Homo sapiens: one gene and its partners. The protein of the gene in region 2 purifies or fractionates together with the protein of the main gene of each other region. This does not show direct contact. Each region holds a gene or a part of one and is shown on either strand. Other genes may lie near its edges.

Region 1 (2,526 bases), on a different chromosome or scaffold from region 2:
CATCAACGGGACGTAAGGGACCCAACCCTCACCCTTGCCCCATCTTCTGGTCAGCCATGCCTCTGGCTCCAAACAGAATCAGTGCCCATAGTTTCTTATTATTTTATTTATTTATTTATTTATTTTTGAGACGGAGTCTTGCTCTGTCGCCCAGGCTGGAGTGCAGTGGCGCGATCTCAGCTCACTGCAAGCTCCGCCTCCCGGGTTCATGCCATTCTCCTGCCTCAGCCTCCCGAGTAGCTGGGACTACAGGCGCCCACGACCACGCCCGGCTAAGTTTTTGTATTTTTAGTAGAGACGGGGTTTCACCGTGTTAGCCAGGATGGTCTCAATCTCCTGACCTCATGATCTGCCCGCCTCGGCCTCCCAAAGTGCTGGGATTACAGGTGTGAGCCACGGCGCCCGGCCATCGGTGCCTATAGTTTCTTGCATGATTCATGTTCCCTGCACTCCTGTACTGTTGAGATTTCTAGGCAGCCTTGACTTAAAACAAGTAAAATCTGTTCTCTCCACCTGTTCCCATCTGAGTCCTTCCTGCTTTTTTAAACATCCCCACACCCTTGAACTGATTCTTGAAATGTTCTTCCCCCTCACAACTCTTGTTCTTCTTAACAAGGGGCCCAGGATGTATGCAGTTATTGAGATGTGACACAAGTTGTACAGAGGAGAGCAGGCTTATCACCTCCCTCTTTCTAGGCTTAATATCACCGTTGATGCAGTCTTAGGATCACCTGCTTTTTGTAGGTGGTTACATCTCACTTGTGGGCTTGTAATCTGGGGTTGGGCCTTGAGAGGTGCCACCTATCCCTGATAATAATTTATTCAACAATTTTTTACTGAACATCTACTATATGCTGGTGTGCTGATACAGAGAACAACAAGAATGGCACATCCTCTGGCCCTCAAAAAATTTGCGTAGTCTGGGGCTCACGCCTGTAATCCCAGCACTTTGGGAGGCCGAAGTGGGCGGATCACCTGAGGTCAGGAGTTCATGACCAGCCTGACCACCACGGAGAAACCCCGTCTCTACTAAAAATACAAAATTAGCCGGGCATGGTGGCGCATGCCTGTAATCCCAGCTACTCAAGAGGCTGAGGCAGGAGAATCACTTGAACCTGGGAGGTGGAGGTTGTAGTGAGCCGAGATCACGCCACTGCACTCCAGCCTGAGCAACAAGAGCGAAACTCCATCTAAAAAAAGAAAAATTACATAGTTTGATGGAGAGACAGACAAAGTAACAGGTATTCACAACGTATTGTGATCAGGATTGGGACTGGGATGCACAAGGGGCTCTGGGAGTCCCAGTGAGGTACTCGATTCAGCCTGCAGGAGTCTGGAGACATCTAAATTGAGCTGTAATGGATGCAAGTGGAAAAAAGGGGGAAGGAGAGGGATGAGGTGAGCAAGAGTGTTCCAGGCAGAAGGAATCATGCATACAAAGGCCCCCCAACACAGCAGGTTCCGGGAAAGTAGAATAAGAGAGGCCACGGTGTTGAGTGTGAATGGGATGTTGAGAGATAAGGCTAGAGATGCTTTGTTAAGGGTCCTGTGAGCAGGGTAAAGAGTTTGGATTCATCCCAAGGGCTCTGGGGAGCTAAAGAGGAATGTAGGCAGGCAGAGTGCATGGTCAGATGCTGGCTGGAGGCAGGGTGACTGGAAGCAGACCGTCCACATCTCAACCTTGGTCTCCCGGCAGGTGGGTTGGCTATGAGTTCCCCGGCTACCGTGGGCGCCAGTACGTGTTTGAGCGGGGCGAGTACCGCCACTGGAATGAGTGGGACGCCAGCCAGCCGCAGCTGCAGTCTGTGCGCCGCATCCGTGACCAGAAGTGGCACAAGCGGGGCCGCTTCCCCAGCAGCTGAAAGGCACCCAGACTTCAAGGACCCAGACCCACCCTGGGGGGCTGCAAGGGCAAGAAGAGGAGGCTCCAGGGTTGGGGCGAGGGCCGACCTGTCCACCCTTCCCTGGAATCTGCTCAATAAAGCCTGGGGTTGGTCCCCCACCCGCCACGTTCCTCGGCATCACTTCCTGAGGGAGCCAGGCCTGGGGCGGGACCTGTGGGAGAGGCGTGCTGAAGGAGGCTGGGGCTTGAGTGTTCTGAGACTCCCAGGAAGGGGCTGGGAAATTTGCCCATATCCTAGGCTCTAATCCTTTCAGGCAGAGCCATGTGCCCCTACTGCCCTGATCTTGTGTTTGTCTGCTGCTGCATGTTTCCATCTGAATGTCTGTCAGTCTGCCCATCCACTCACCCATCCATCCATCATCCTTCCACCCACCCACCCACCCATTCATCCACCCATTCACCCACTCATGTGCCCATCCATTCGTCTACTCACCCATCCATCCATCCATCCACCCACCCATTCATCCACCCATTCACCCACCCATGTGCCCATCCATTCATCTACTCACCCATCCATCCATCCACCCACCCACCCATCTACCCATTCATTCATCCATCCAACTACCTACCACCCATTCATCCATCCATGCATCCATCCATCCATCCATTCATCCACCCACTTA
Region 2 (2,672 bases):
CCACATGCCCACAAAGAAAAGGAATGGTGCCAGCCAAAATGTGGATACCTGTAATTTTTTGAAACCATGTTAGGAGACTAACTTAGACCCCCCACGGTGGTCCTCATAATGTGAGTATCGAAGTTTCCTGCAGAGGCTGAAATTTTAGTTTGTGAACAAAAGCTCAGTAATGTAGCAGAAAAAACTCTCAATCAAGATCCCACTTTTCTACTTGGTTTAGTCAGGCTTTGGGGCTTTTATGTGTTTTAGCTTATTTGCTCTAAAGGTTAATAATGCTCGCTCTGTTTAGTTTCCAGAGATAATGTTAGGGATCAAATTATTTCTTTTATGTCAAGAGGCAAAATTGTGTTGAGATACTTGGCTGAAATGTTTTTTTGTAGTTTGAGTTTTGTTTCATTATAATAATATTCGTTTTTAGTTGACCAAATTATGATTGTATTGCTATTTCCTTGCTTATTAGAAATATGTTATTACATTTTTATGTCCATCGATTTACAGGCAATTCGATCACAAATGAAACTGGGTGATTACTTTTATATAGCAAGAATTCTGCTTTCTGAGTCAGTGAGGTTTAATATTAACAAATGTTTTTTCAGTTTAGGGTTCTATATGATGATCATATTCTCTAGGGTAAAAAGTGTGGAAAAAGGTGGCTGGCCTTGAGAAATATACAATTGCTGTGCTGGTTCTTTCAGAGTTGAAATGGAGTAACAAAATCAGAAATCACCAAACGGTTTCTAATTTCAAAGACAGACTGTCTGACCTTGCCTACATAGTTCAGGTAGAAACCAAGAAGGAACATGGAGAAGGAAATTGAGTTCCCGTCCAGGTGACATACAACCACAACCACCTCCAGTAATACATCTGGAATTACAACATGGGCTGTTCACCTTAGGGCACAACAAGCTCTCACCTAGGAATGTGTTTCTCCTGTATTTTTATTCTTATTTGAAAAAGTTCTGATTAAACTTCTACACTACACCACACACACACACACACACACACACACACACACACACACAACTCCCCATCCCCATCCCCGTTCATTCTTGGTTCTGTATCTTCTTGAAGTAGAGCATACAATGTAACTTAAAAAAGAGTTATTTCTGATATATATTCAATTTGGCTGTTTTGAACAAGTCTTCTCTTGAAGCCATTAAGGGGATTTTCCATGTACCTCAAAATATCACTATTTTGAATTTTTTGCTCCATGTTTCACACCCCAGATGAAGAAAACCTACATAGATTAAGGGCTTCCAGTGTGTCCGGCATTGTCAGATGTGTCAGCAATGACCTCCCAGCTGCCTCATTCACTGGATGATTTTTCATCCTCAATGTAGTAATTTTTGTGCTCTGGCTGGCCCTTCTGTTGGTAAGGAGGCAGGACTGTTGTGGCTTTGGTGACCTGTTCAGTCTGCCAGTGTCTGCTCGATGGAAATTTGGGGGCATTTTTTTGAAGTTGTATAAAATTAAACATCAGCAATTTAGCTGTGCATATTTGTATTTAGAGGTGAAATAGCTTCAGTCTATGGCTGGGAAAAGGAATTGGAAGTGTGACTGCGTGTTGTGACCACAGGCATGCTTTGTCTCCCAGTGTGGTAAAATAGGATTCAGAGCATTCCAGGTTGATTTGTAATGTTGCCCTGACAAGGAAATCATTGCCTGGGAATATTTTTGTTCGCCCGATTAAGGGAGGTTCCTAGTTCTATAACAATTGCTGTGTCAGTTTTGAGAAGCTTAACATTAATATGTCTTTTTTTTTTTTTTTTGCCTTTGCTTTCTTCTTTTTTTTGGCAAGTGACTCTTCAAAATGTAGTATGTAAGGGAGGGAAAGTATTAAACATTGAGGATCTCTTAATTCAGAAAAGATGGCCAAGCCATTTTCAGCACAAAGAGAAATGAGAAGCACGAGAGTCTTGATCATTAGAGCAAGGAGTCATCACGTGGCTGCCATCCTCTGAGCGTAGATCCAGATCACTTCCTAGCTGCATGATGTGGGTCAGAATTTCACTAGCCTGAGCCTCGGTTTCCCAGCCTGTAAATTGTGGGTTTTAGCATTTTGAGACTTAGAGAGAGATGACGAATGTAAAAGACCTGGGACAACTCCTGTGCTCTGTAAATGGTGGCAGTTAGAGGCACCTTCTGCAGGTATGCTTTCAGTTGTTAGTGAGTTCCTGGAATTTGAGGTACAGCATTTAGGATCAGGGGCAGTAGAATCAAGCTTTGTGCCTATTGGCATCTAAAGGGTCAGGGATGGGCTAAGCCTTTGAGCAGAGCTGTGGTTGCAGCCTCACCCCCATGCCTCCCTACCTCTCTTCCTCCCCTCCCCTGCCTTGAGGGTCCTCCTTTGCTTCAGAGGCACAGTCCAGCCTTGGTGCAGCTCCTCCAGGGACCTTCATCGGCTCCTGTGGCCCTGGCTGCTCCTCCTCCATTGACCCACCTCCTACTGGAAGATGGGATGAAATGAGGTGTGGCAAGGCCACCATGTCCCCAAAGATGGAGCCTTCTGGGAAGAGTTTTCCTTTCATTCCTGCCAAGCCTTGCTTACTGCCTTCTCTAGCAACCAAAGATCCTTGTCAGGAGGGCAAAGGCCACAAGCATTTGTGTCATTGGAATGTCTGCACGTGTGTATATCCATCTAAATAATAGAGGCTTTGAAGAAAATGTGGCGA
Region 3 (3,374 bases), on a different chromosome or scaffold from region 2:
TCACTTCACAGCACAGTAGACAAACAGGCTTTTATGAGGCCCAACACCCCTCAAGGCAGTTTCTCCCCCTCCAGCCTAGCTTCAGAGGAGCTGTGTCATCTCTGTGTTTGGTCTCAGCTTCCCCTGTTCCTTCTCTGCCAAGGTGCCTCGTGGTGGCCACCATCAGGGAGAAAGAAGTCCAACCAGGCCCTTCCCAGCACACGTGATCCCAGCTGCCCCCACTCTGAGCCAGGAGAAGGCCTGGGAGAGCAGGATGCTTTTTGGATTTCTGTACATTAGAATGCTGTCTGGCACTCTTTGCTCCATGTAGTTAAAAAAAAAAAATCCTACTTTCTTAAAAATTTTTATATTTTTCTTAAAAATCAAATTTTCTTAATAAAGCATAGGACCTCATTTTCACAGAAAATGGTGACTCCTCATAGACAGTGAAACATGGAAATCTCTTTTTTTTTTTTTTTTTTTTTTTTTAAGACTGAGTCTCGTTCTGTCGACCCGGCTGAAGTGCAGTGGCGCGATCTCGGCTCACGACAAGCTCCGCCTCCCGGGTTCATGCCATTCTCCTGCCTCAGCCTCCCGAGTAGCTGGGACTACAGGCACCCGCCACTGCGCCCAGCTAATATTTTTGTATTTTTAGTATAGACGGGGTTTCACCGTGGTCTCGATCTCCTGACCTCGTGATCCGCCCGGCTCAGCCTCCCAAAATGTTGGGATTACAGGCGTGAGCCCCTGCGCCCGGCTGAAACATGGAAATCTGAAATGCTGCTGGTGTGCCTTCCCTCTACAAGGGGAAGGAAGGGGTTCCCCCATGATGGAAATGCCCCACTGGGCATCCAAGTGGCAAAGTGGAGACACACTCAGGGCTGGTGGCACACACAGGCAGGAGGGCTGGCAGGCCACCTGCAGGGAGTCTGTCTGGGCCACAGGCCCAGAGCAGCCAGGACAGGCCATCACAGTGCCACCGTGCTTCCCCAGCTGCACGGGAGCTGTGGGAGGAGGGCAGGAGAGCATCTGAGGTGGCAGAAGGGGTGTGTGGGGAGTACCCCTGGCACAGACTGGTTTGGAGCCATATCACGTGGCCTTGTTCAGAATGTATATGATCTTTACCTGTCGGTTCACAACAAAAAGTAAGCACATCCCCACATACCCATACGAGGGTTCAGAAAATACATGCTACCTCGGTGTACACAGGCCACTGCCATTTCCACCTGCTGCCTAGTGGCCCAACTCCCAGCGGGGCCCAGCCAAGCAGGCTGCTCTCGTCGCCTCATGCTCCGTCCAGCCCGGGAATTATCCTGCTACCAGCGCCTGTCCTCACCAGGCTGGAGACAAGGCCACACCTGCCCTGGAGGGTGAGGAGGAGCGCTCTGCAGGCAAATACCTCTGCGGCCTCCCCGGGTCCACACTCCATGGCCTGGAAGCCACGACTTTCATTTATTCAAGGAAAAATGAGCGCTGACCTTCCAAACAGTTCCTTGATCACACTGCCTCTCACCCTGTGCTCTGTACAGGGGAGCAGGGGCCAGAGGTCTGGTCCTAGCCCCTCAGAAGGTCCCCAAAGAGGTACAGGCTGTGTCAGGTGCCAGGTGTCAACAAGGGAAACTGCTTTGCCTGACACAAGCGTCCATGGCTTCTGGCTTTGGGGCAGGGTAAAGGGAAACTGACGAAGGGGTTGAGGAGTCCAGGGCTCTGGCTGCTAGAGGGGCAGCCTGGGCAAAGTGGCCAGGAAAGATGGCCCATCTCCCAGAACTCCCTCTTGCTGGGGTCCAACTCTTCCACAGTGCGGCCCCTTCTGTCTGCTGACCTTGGAGAAACCAGGCAGCTCATTCCCTTTCCTTGGACCTGGTGCTACCCTGGGAACATTCTTAAGTCCTCCATGTAATTGGGGTGTGGAGCTTAAACATGAGGGGGACCAGCAGGAGGTCCTGGGACTGGGCTCAGGGCGGTTCACCCTGATCATTGACCCTCTGCTCTGTGGGCTTCTCTTGGCAGCTGACTTTCACGGGACGCTCGTGTGTGCCAAAAACTTCAACAAACCTTCAGCGTGGGAGCTTTTATCATCCCCATTTTACAGATGAAGAAACTGAGGCACAGTGAGATTAAGTAACTTGCCTAAAGTTACACAGCTTATCAGTGACAAGCCTAGGCTGTGAGCCTAGGTGGCCTGGCTGCAGTGAGCACACTAAAGCACTGGGTAGTGTGCATCTTGGCTCTGTCCCCATCAAGAATGCCAAAGGAGAGGCCTGCTGGTGTCCCATCCCACTTCCAGCCCTGATGCCCAAACTCAGGCAGCCTGAGGAAAGACTAGGGGATCCCTGTCCTCACCCAGCAGCAGCACCTGCTGTCCTGGTTTAGGCTGCCTGGCCTAGCTGCTCTGAATTAAATGAGCAGAAACTCCTACCTCAGCCACAGTGGGAATGGACAGCCCCCAGGGTCACCCACCCCCTCACATTGTCAGGCCTCATGTGTCACCTCCCCCTGAAAAGCAGTCTCTTACCTGGCTAAACATTTAGGTTTGGAATTATTACAAAGGTCATAAGGATAATTCATGTGAGCCATGAAAACTCAATATTATAGGAACCGAAAGGACATAGTGACAAGAACCTCCTCCTGGATGCACCACGAGAAGCTGCCCCAATCACTTCACTGTCAACGCTTCTTTCACTGGCACTTGTGCCACTGCAGCATTAAGTGATCAGCCCCAAAACATGCTGTGGAACTCGCCTGGGTCACTGCTGGGTGGCCCATCCCCTGAAGACAAGGTTCAACTTTAAACAAGGTACCTCTCTCTCCCTAAATCGGAGTGACAGGAAGCCGGATTGAGGACCCTATGGCCTGGGCACTGTCACTCCTCACCCGATACTGTCCGCCTCCCAAGTCAAGGCCCTCATGGCCAGTGTCAGGAAGCCTCATGGGGTGTGGTCAGCAGGGCTCCAGAAGTTTTATCTTCAAAGTCACATCTGCCGAGGTTCACCTGGGGGCTCATTTCTGAACCCTTTTCCTACTCTGTTACCAGCAATTTCCTGGAAGCCATGGCCCTTCTCAAGAAAGCCTTGGCCTTAAAATCACTTGTTTGCCATCGAATGTATTCTGTTGTTTCTCTAGACCAAGGGTTAGCAAACTACGGCCGGCTGCCCCTTTGTGTAAATAAGGTTTTATGGACACGCCTGCTGGCTTCCGTATGGTCTCTGGCTGCCTTCTGGGTCCAGCGACAGGTTGACAGAGGCTGTATGGTCCACAAAGCCTAAAATCTTTACTGTTTAAATTTGCTGACCCTTGCCCTCGCTCTTCCCTTACTCAAACTCTCACAAAGCACCTCCCCAACGCTGGCCTGTGCCTGGCCCAGGATGATAATACGCAGACTCGGCTGAGCCCAC
Region 4 (3,525 bases), about 27 Mb from region 2:
AATGTAAATAGAATGGGGAAAAAAGCCAACAAAGATTCAACCTAATAAGGAAAGACATCTTGGAATCCAGAGGGATTACTTGGGTGAAGGAGAATTAGAGTCCAGAGTCAGGTACAAATGCAAAGAAAACAGAAATCTTAGGATTACAGAAAAGAAGATGACTCAACAAAAATTGGACTACTAAGTCCTGTATATCTATATTTATATCTATATATGTCTATCCATCTATCTATCTAAGCTGTTTATATATATGCACACACACAAAGGAACTTTTAGTAATGCTGATAATTTGTTCATTTAATACAAATATGTTCATGAATTATACATTTTAATAGTATTACAGCCTGAATAGGCAAACATGAACAAAACAATTGCATCTGTTCTTCAGGCACTCACTTTCAATTAAAGACGCATATAAGATGAAAGAAAAGGGACAGAAACTGATATTCCATGCAAATGGTAACCAAAACAAAGCAGGGGTTGCTAAATTTATATCAGACAAATTAGATTTTAAGTCAAAAACTATCTCTTGAGACAAAAAAAAAAAAGATCATTACATAGTAAAGGAGTCAATTCACCAGGAAGATATGACAATTAGTATGACTCTATCAGAGCACCTAAATTATAAAGCAAATATTGACAGATCTGAAGTAGGAAATTGACAGCCATAAAATAATTTATGGGACTTTAATATCCCACTTACAATAATGAATAGACTATCTAGACAGAAAATCAATAAAGAAACCTCTGACTTAAACAACACTGTAGACCAGTGGACCTGACAGACATATACAGAACTTTGCACCCAACAGCAGAAGAATTCACATTCTTCTCAAGTGCCCATGGGATGCACTCTGAGATAAATCATCTTAGGTCACAAAACAAGTCTTAACAACTTTAAGAAGATTGAAATTATTCCAAGTGTCTTTTCCAACCTCCATGGAATAGAAATAGAAATCAATAACAGCAGGAAAACAGGAAAAATTATAAATATGTGGAAACTAAACGATATAGTTTGAATAAACCTCCAGGCCAAATCTCATGTCAATTGTAACCCTCCATGCTGAAATTGAAGCCTGGTCAGAGATGTTTGGGTCATGGGGACTGATCCCTCATGGCTTGGTGCTGTCCTTGTGATAGTGAGTTCTTGCAAAATGTGGTTGTTTTAAGTGTGTAGCACCTGCTCCTCCTTGCTCCTATATTTGCCGTTTGAAGTACCTGATCCCATTTCACCTTGCACCATGAGTAAAAGCTCCCTGATATATGCTCAGAAGCCAAGCAGATGTCAGCACCATGCTTGTATAGTCTGCAGAACCACGAGCCAATTAAACCTCTTTTCTTTATAAATTACCCAGTCTCAGGTATGTCTTTATAGCAATGAAAGAATGGACTAATACACTGAACAACACACTCTTGAGCAATTATTGGGTCAAATAGGAAATCAAAGGGAATTTTAAGAGCTATTTTGAGACAAAAAAAAAATGGCATAACAAAACTTATGGGATGCAGCAAAAGCATTGCTAGGAGAGAAGTTTATAGCAATAAATGCTTATGCTATGAAAGAAGAAAGACTTCAAATAAACAACCTAGCTTTACCCTTTCAGAAAGTGGCAAAAGAAAAACACTTTAAGCCTAAGCCTAAAATTAGCAGAACGAGGGAAATAATTAAGATTATAATAGAAATACATTAAATAGAGTTGAAAAAGACAATGAGAAAAATCAATAAAATTAAGATTTTGCGTATAGAAAAGATAAAATCAATAAACCATTAGCTAGACTAAGCAAAAAAGAAAAGGCTCAAATAAATAAAATCAGAAATAAAAGAGAAGAAATTACAATGGGTACCTCAGAAATTAAAGAAGACATGAGACTACTATGAACAATTATATGCCAACAAATTTGATAACCTAGAAAAATAGATAAATTCCTAGAAACATACAATCTATGAAACTTGAATCAAAAAGAAATTCGAAGTCCAAACAGACAAGTAACAAATAAGGAAATTGAATCAGTAGTCAAAACCTTCCAACAAAGAAATGTCCAAGACCATATGGCTTCATGGGTAAATTATACCAGACATTTAAAGAAGAATTAATACTCGTCCTTCTCAAATTATTCTGACAAATAGAAGAAGAAGCACTTTAAAACTCATTTTATGAGGCTAGTGTTATCCTGATACCAAAGCCAGACGAAGGAAAGCAAACCGCAGGCCAATACTCCTGATGAACATGATACAAAAGTCCTCAATAAAATGCTAGTTACCCAAATTCAGCAGCATATTAAAATGATGATACACCATGATTAAGTGGGATTTGTCCCTGGAATGCAAATATCTTTCAACACATGCAAATCAATGCAATAGAACACATTAATAGGTTGAAAGAAAAAAAGCCACAAGATCATTTCAGTAGACACAGAAAAAGCATTTGACAGTGCTATCCACATAGACAAATGAGGTTGCATCAAACTAAAATGCTTCTGCACAGCCAAGTAGATAATCATCAGAGTGAAAAGGAACTTTAATAATGGGACAAAATATTTATAAACCATATATGTATATACATATATATATGAGTTAATATCCAAAATTTATAAGGAGTGCATGTAAGTTAATAGCCAAAAATCTCACATAATCTGATTTTAAAATGGGCACATGACCCCTGTACTCTGTTGGTGGGAATGTAAGTTGGCACAGCTGTTATGGAAAGCAGTACAGAAATTCCTCAATAAATTAAAAATATAATTACCTTATGATTTAGCAGTTTTGCTGCTGGATATATATCCAAAGGAAACCATTATTACATAGAGAGATCTGCACTCCCATGTTCACTGCAGCATTATTCATATTAATCAAGCTGTGGAAATAACCTAAATGTGCATTGACAGATGTATTAGTCCGTTTTCATACTGCTTGGAAGAAATATCGGAGACTGGGTAATTTATAAAGAAAAAGAGGTTTAATGGACTCACAATTCTGCATGGCTAGGGAGGCCTCACAATCATGGCAGTAGGCAAAGGAGGAGCAAAGGCACATCTTACATGATGGCAGGCAAGAGAGCATGTGTAGGGGAACCACCCTTTATAAAACCATCAGATTTCATGAGACTTATTCAATATCATAAGAACAGCATGGGAAAAACTTGCCCCTGTGTTTCAATTACCTCCCACCAGGTTCCTTCCATGATACCTGAGGATTAAGGGAGCTACAATTCAAGATGAGATTTAGGTGGGGGCACAGCCAAACCATATCAACAGATAAATGAATTTGAAAAGTATGATATATATATATATATATATATATATATATGTACATATAATATATATAATTACATGTATGATATACTATTGAATATTATTCAGCCTTAAAAAAAAGAAAATCTGGACATTTGCAACAACATGGATGAACATGGAGGAATTTATGTTATTTGAAACAATCCAAACATAGAAAGACAGATATTGCATTATCTCACTTATATATGGAATCTAAATAGTCAAGCTTATAGTAGTGAATAGAGTAGGGGTTAA
Region 5 (3,525 bases), on a different chromosome or scaffold from region 2:
AATGATTACATTTTGTCTATAAGGTCCATCAAATACCATTGTTTTAGCTGTTATCAGTTAGTTGTGTTACCTCTGTGATTGCAGCATTAGATTTGTTAATAGTCACTGTTACAAAGGAAAATGGTTTTGTTTAACTAAAACAAATGAACCCAAGATAACAGTACTGATTAAACATATTTTAAAACCAGACACGTTGTAAGACATAATGTAAGAAAGACCAAAAGTAGTTAGGTACTGAGATTTGCCTTAAAAATATCTGGTGAAAGCATACCACTTTGATTGATGAATGATGTTGACTATTAAAAAATATCTCTTGTACTGATGTTGGGTATATGCATCAAACATATACGTTTTTAGGGATTTTTTTCCCCCTAACCTTTAACAAAAGAAATACATGTTATAGAACATTATGGAAAAGCTAAAAGGAAGAAAATTAAGATAAACTATAATCCTTTTACTCAGAGATAACCATTCTTTGTTTTTTACTGCACACCATGATTCTTCAGAGATAACCATTCTTAATAATAACAGTCTATACTTGTGATTAGTCCTGGTTTCCTAGAAAACAGCACAGACAGGATTAGCTGCTAAGGCTTTGATGGGAGGTGCAGTTTGAGGGCAAGAATGAAGAGAAAAGCTGGTCATAGATTTCTAAAGAAGAGACAGGTGGTTTGCAGTCATGTTAAATAACTCACAGACTTTGTGGACCCACCATACCTTAGAAAGGTCAGATGATAGAGGAATGGATTTGGATTCTGACAAGGATTTGTTTGCAGGCACCTGTCTTTCATTGGTCAAAGTTTTCTACATCTGGCATTGATGCCTCCAAGCTTTTGGATTGTGGTGCTCTGGGAACTAACACCCGGAAGTAGTCAGGGAGTTATAGCCTCCTTTCCATGTTCACAATTCAGGAGTACCTGAATGTACTCCCAAGGTAGCTTGAATCTACCAGAGGTATTAGGAGACTGAGCTTTTCCATTGATTGGCAGCCAAGGCCTGGGTTGAGAAAGGTGAATCTGGGGCCACATATAAACTGTGTTTACCTCAGTACGTTTTTAGTCTTTGTATACATCTTTTTAATATATATTTAAATAAAAATGGGTTCATTTTTAAATAAAAATGGGTTCATTTTTAAATAAAAAATGGGTTCATCATATAACTTACTGGTAATCTGTTATTCTCCTTCAGGATAAATCTTGAAATATCTTTATTAAATATTCAGCATCCTTTAAAATTGCTATATAGTGTTCCACTCTAGCAGTAATTCTTAAAAGGAAATTCTTAAAATTTCAGTTATTTATAGATGGATTGTGGTTTGAAATATTTATTCATTTAATGATAAATTGTCATCTTAAACTTTTATTTAGAAATAGTTTCAAATTTACAGAAAAATTTCCCCAATAAGAACTGTTCAGAGACTACTCATAAACCCTTTACCTAGATTCACCTGTTGTTAACATTTTCCCCACTTGCTGTATCATTTCCACTTTTTACACACCTTTTTCCTTAAAGTTATTTACACCATGGTCCTTTACCTCTGACTTTAATGTGTACTTTCTAAGAGGAGGGATGTTCTCTTTCATAATCACAGTACAATTTACAACTTAAGTAAATTTAATACATAGTAATCTGTCCATTTTCCAGTTATGTTGACTGACCCAGAAGTGTTCTTGATAGCATTTTTCCCCCTCCAGTACAGGATCTAATTTAGGAGCAGGTATTGCATAGTTGTCATGCTTCTTTAGTCTCCTTTAATCTGGATCATTTCCACAGCCTTCCTTTGTCTTTTATAACATTGTTATTTTTGAGAATTAAGACATAAGTGATGTTGTGTCCCTCTCAGGATATCACATCTGGAGGCACATGAGGTCTGTCTGACTCTTATTGATGATATTACTTTTGATCACCCAGTCAAGGTCTAATGTTTCCACTGTGTAGGTATTATTTTTTCCCTTGCAGCTAATAAGTAATATAGGCAGATGCTTTTGGACCATGTAAATCTTGTGCTCCTTTTCAAACTTTGTGCCTGCATTTACCATCTGTTGATGACCCTTGCCTTTATTCTGACGGTCACAAAATGATTTTTCATTTCCAGCACTCCTTTCACATTTACAACTTGGCATTTGGTAATTCTCCTCCTTCCTTACCTACTTATTTATCTTTTTATTATTGGTATGGATGCATGGATTATTCCCCCCACCAATAATTTATAATTTATTTGGCCATTTTGATGCTCAGATTACCCCTAGTTTTAGCTACTGAAAGGCCCCTTCAAGCTGGCTCCTGTGTCTGTCATATGCGTTTTTTTAAAAAGTACATCCTTTCTGGCATGACATGAATGATCTTTTTGAGATTTACTTTGCATTAAAGGTGGTAACTTTGTGGTTAATTTGCTCAGGATATTTCTGGCTCAAGAGTGAGAAGACTGACATAGTTATTTATGAGTCTTAACACTGAAAATTTCACTAAACACACTTAAAAGGATTTGATACCCTTTTACGTATTGAATTGCTTATATTTGAATTTTGTTAGTCAAAAAGTACCTTAAAATTATTTATATTTTTGTGGTTCTGTGAGACTACACATGATAATATAGGGTTGATTTTAAACATGAGAACACTTTAAGGATTTAAAATGATTATTTTAGAACGTTAGCAATATATGAATCTTTAAATTGTTAAACATATATAGTTAAAATAGAATTATATATCCATTGTAATATGATATAAGAGCCAGGTAGTATATTTAGCTATTCCTATTCATTTTAAACTATTGGGTAAGAGCAAACGGATCAACTGTGAAATATCTTTAAAGAAAAAACTATTAGAAGTCTGTACAAAAATTGAATTTATTTGGTGATTATAGTTGTTTTATTGGTTTCTTTTGTTCACTGTTTAATTTCAGATGTTAAGATGTATTAGAAAATTGGATTTTAAAAATATTGAGTATTTTTAAAAAGGTAAACAGTTTTAATTTTATTGGTTTTTATGTAAAATAACTTGTACTTTTTGAAATTTTCCAGTGGGCAGAAATGGATCTGGAAAAAGTAACTTTTTTTATGGTAGGTGTTGCTTTTTGAATTGTAAATATATTAAGACCTGGGTATCTTAGGGTAGATTATTAAAATCATTAATTTTCTGAGGTTATGTATTCATGAAACCCAAGAAATACTTTATATGGGGTTGCAGCTTAGTGTAGAGGGTTTAGAGTATACAGATCTGAATTCTGCTTTATACCCAGTGGCTGATTAGCTGTGTGAGAGTGGGCAAAACACGTAGCCTCTCAAATTTTTCTTTTCACTTTAAAAATGGAGATGTTTGGATGTTTGCCCTGTCTACCTTAGATGGTTTGTAAGAATGGAATGCAATAGTATGTATGAAAATGCTTTTTAAACTTGAATGTAATATATAAATGTTATAAATGCATATTTTAAACGTATGTAAATGCAGTAGAATAGTTGATAGTATTGTTTTGGAAAATTGTTCATCTTTCTTATTTCACCTTTTTGAAAACGTTTTCTAAACC

Evidence for each region.
Region 1: the proteins of ARHGEF28 (region 2) and CRYBB3 purify together in Homo sapiens (co-immunoprecipitation; one large-scale study listed by IntAct). This does not show direct contact.
Region 3: the proteins of ARHGEF28 (region 2) and POC1A purify together in Homo sapiens (co-immunoprecipitation; one large-scale study listed by IntAct). This does not show direct contact.
Region 4: the proteins of ARHGEF28 (region 2) and FAM174A purify together in Homo sapiens (co-immunoprecipitation; one large-scale study listed by IntAct). This does not show direct contact.
Region 5: the proteins of ARHGEF28 (region 2) and SMC3 purify together in Homo sapiens (co-immunoprecipitation; one large-scale study listed by IntAct). This does not show direct contact.

What each region holds. Positions count from the first base shown.
Region 1 is NC_000022.11:25,205,351-25,207,876, forward strand, and holds the end of CRYBB3 (beta-crystallin B3), read left to right. Parts: coding exon 1-12; intron 13-1,696; coding exon 1,697-1,862; 3' UTR 1,863-2,009; downstream 2,010-2,526. UniProt on the Homo sapiens protein: Crystallins are the dominant structural components of the vertebrate eye lens.
Region 2 is NC_000005.10:73,937,179-73,939,850, forward strand, and holds part of ARHGEF28 (rho guanine nucleotide exchange factor 28), read left to right. Parts: intron 1-2,672. UniProt on the Homo sapiens protein: Functions as a RHOA-specific guanine nucleotide exchange factor regulating signaling pathways downstream of integrins and growth factor receptors. Functions in axonal branching, synapse formation and dendritic morphogenesis.
Region 3 is NC_000003.12:52,078,061-52,081,434, forward strand, and holds part of POC1A (POC1 centriolar protein homolog A), read right to left. Parts: intron 1-3,374.
Region 4 is NC_000005.10:100,562,865-100,566,389, forward strand, and holds part of FAM174A (membrane protein FAM174A precursor), read left to right. Parts: intron 1-3,525.
Region 5 is NC_000010.11:110,570,685-110,574,209, forward strand, and holds part of SMC3 (structural maintenance of chromosomes protein 3), read left to right. Parts: intron 1-3,022; coding exon 3,023-3,061; intron 3,062-3,525. UniProt on the Homo sapiens protein: Central component of cohesin, a complex required for chromosome cohesion during the cell cycle. The cohesin complex may form a large proteinaceous ring within which sister chromatids can be trapped.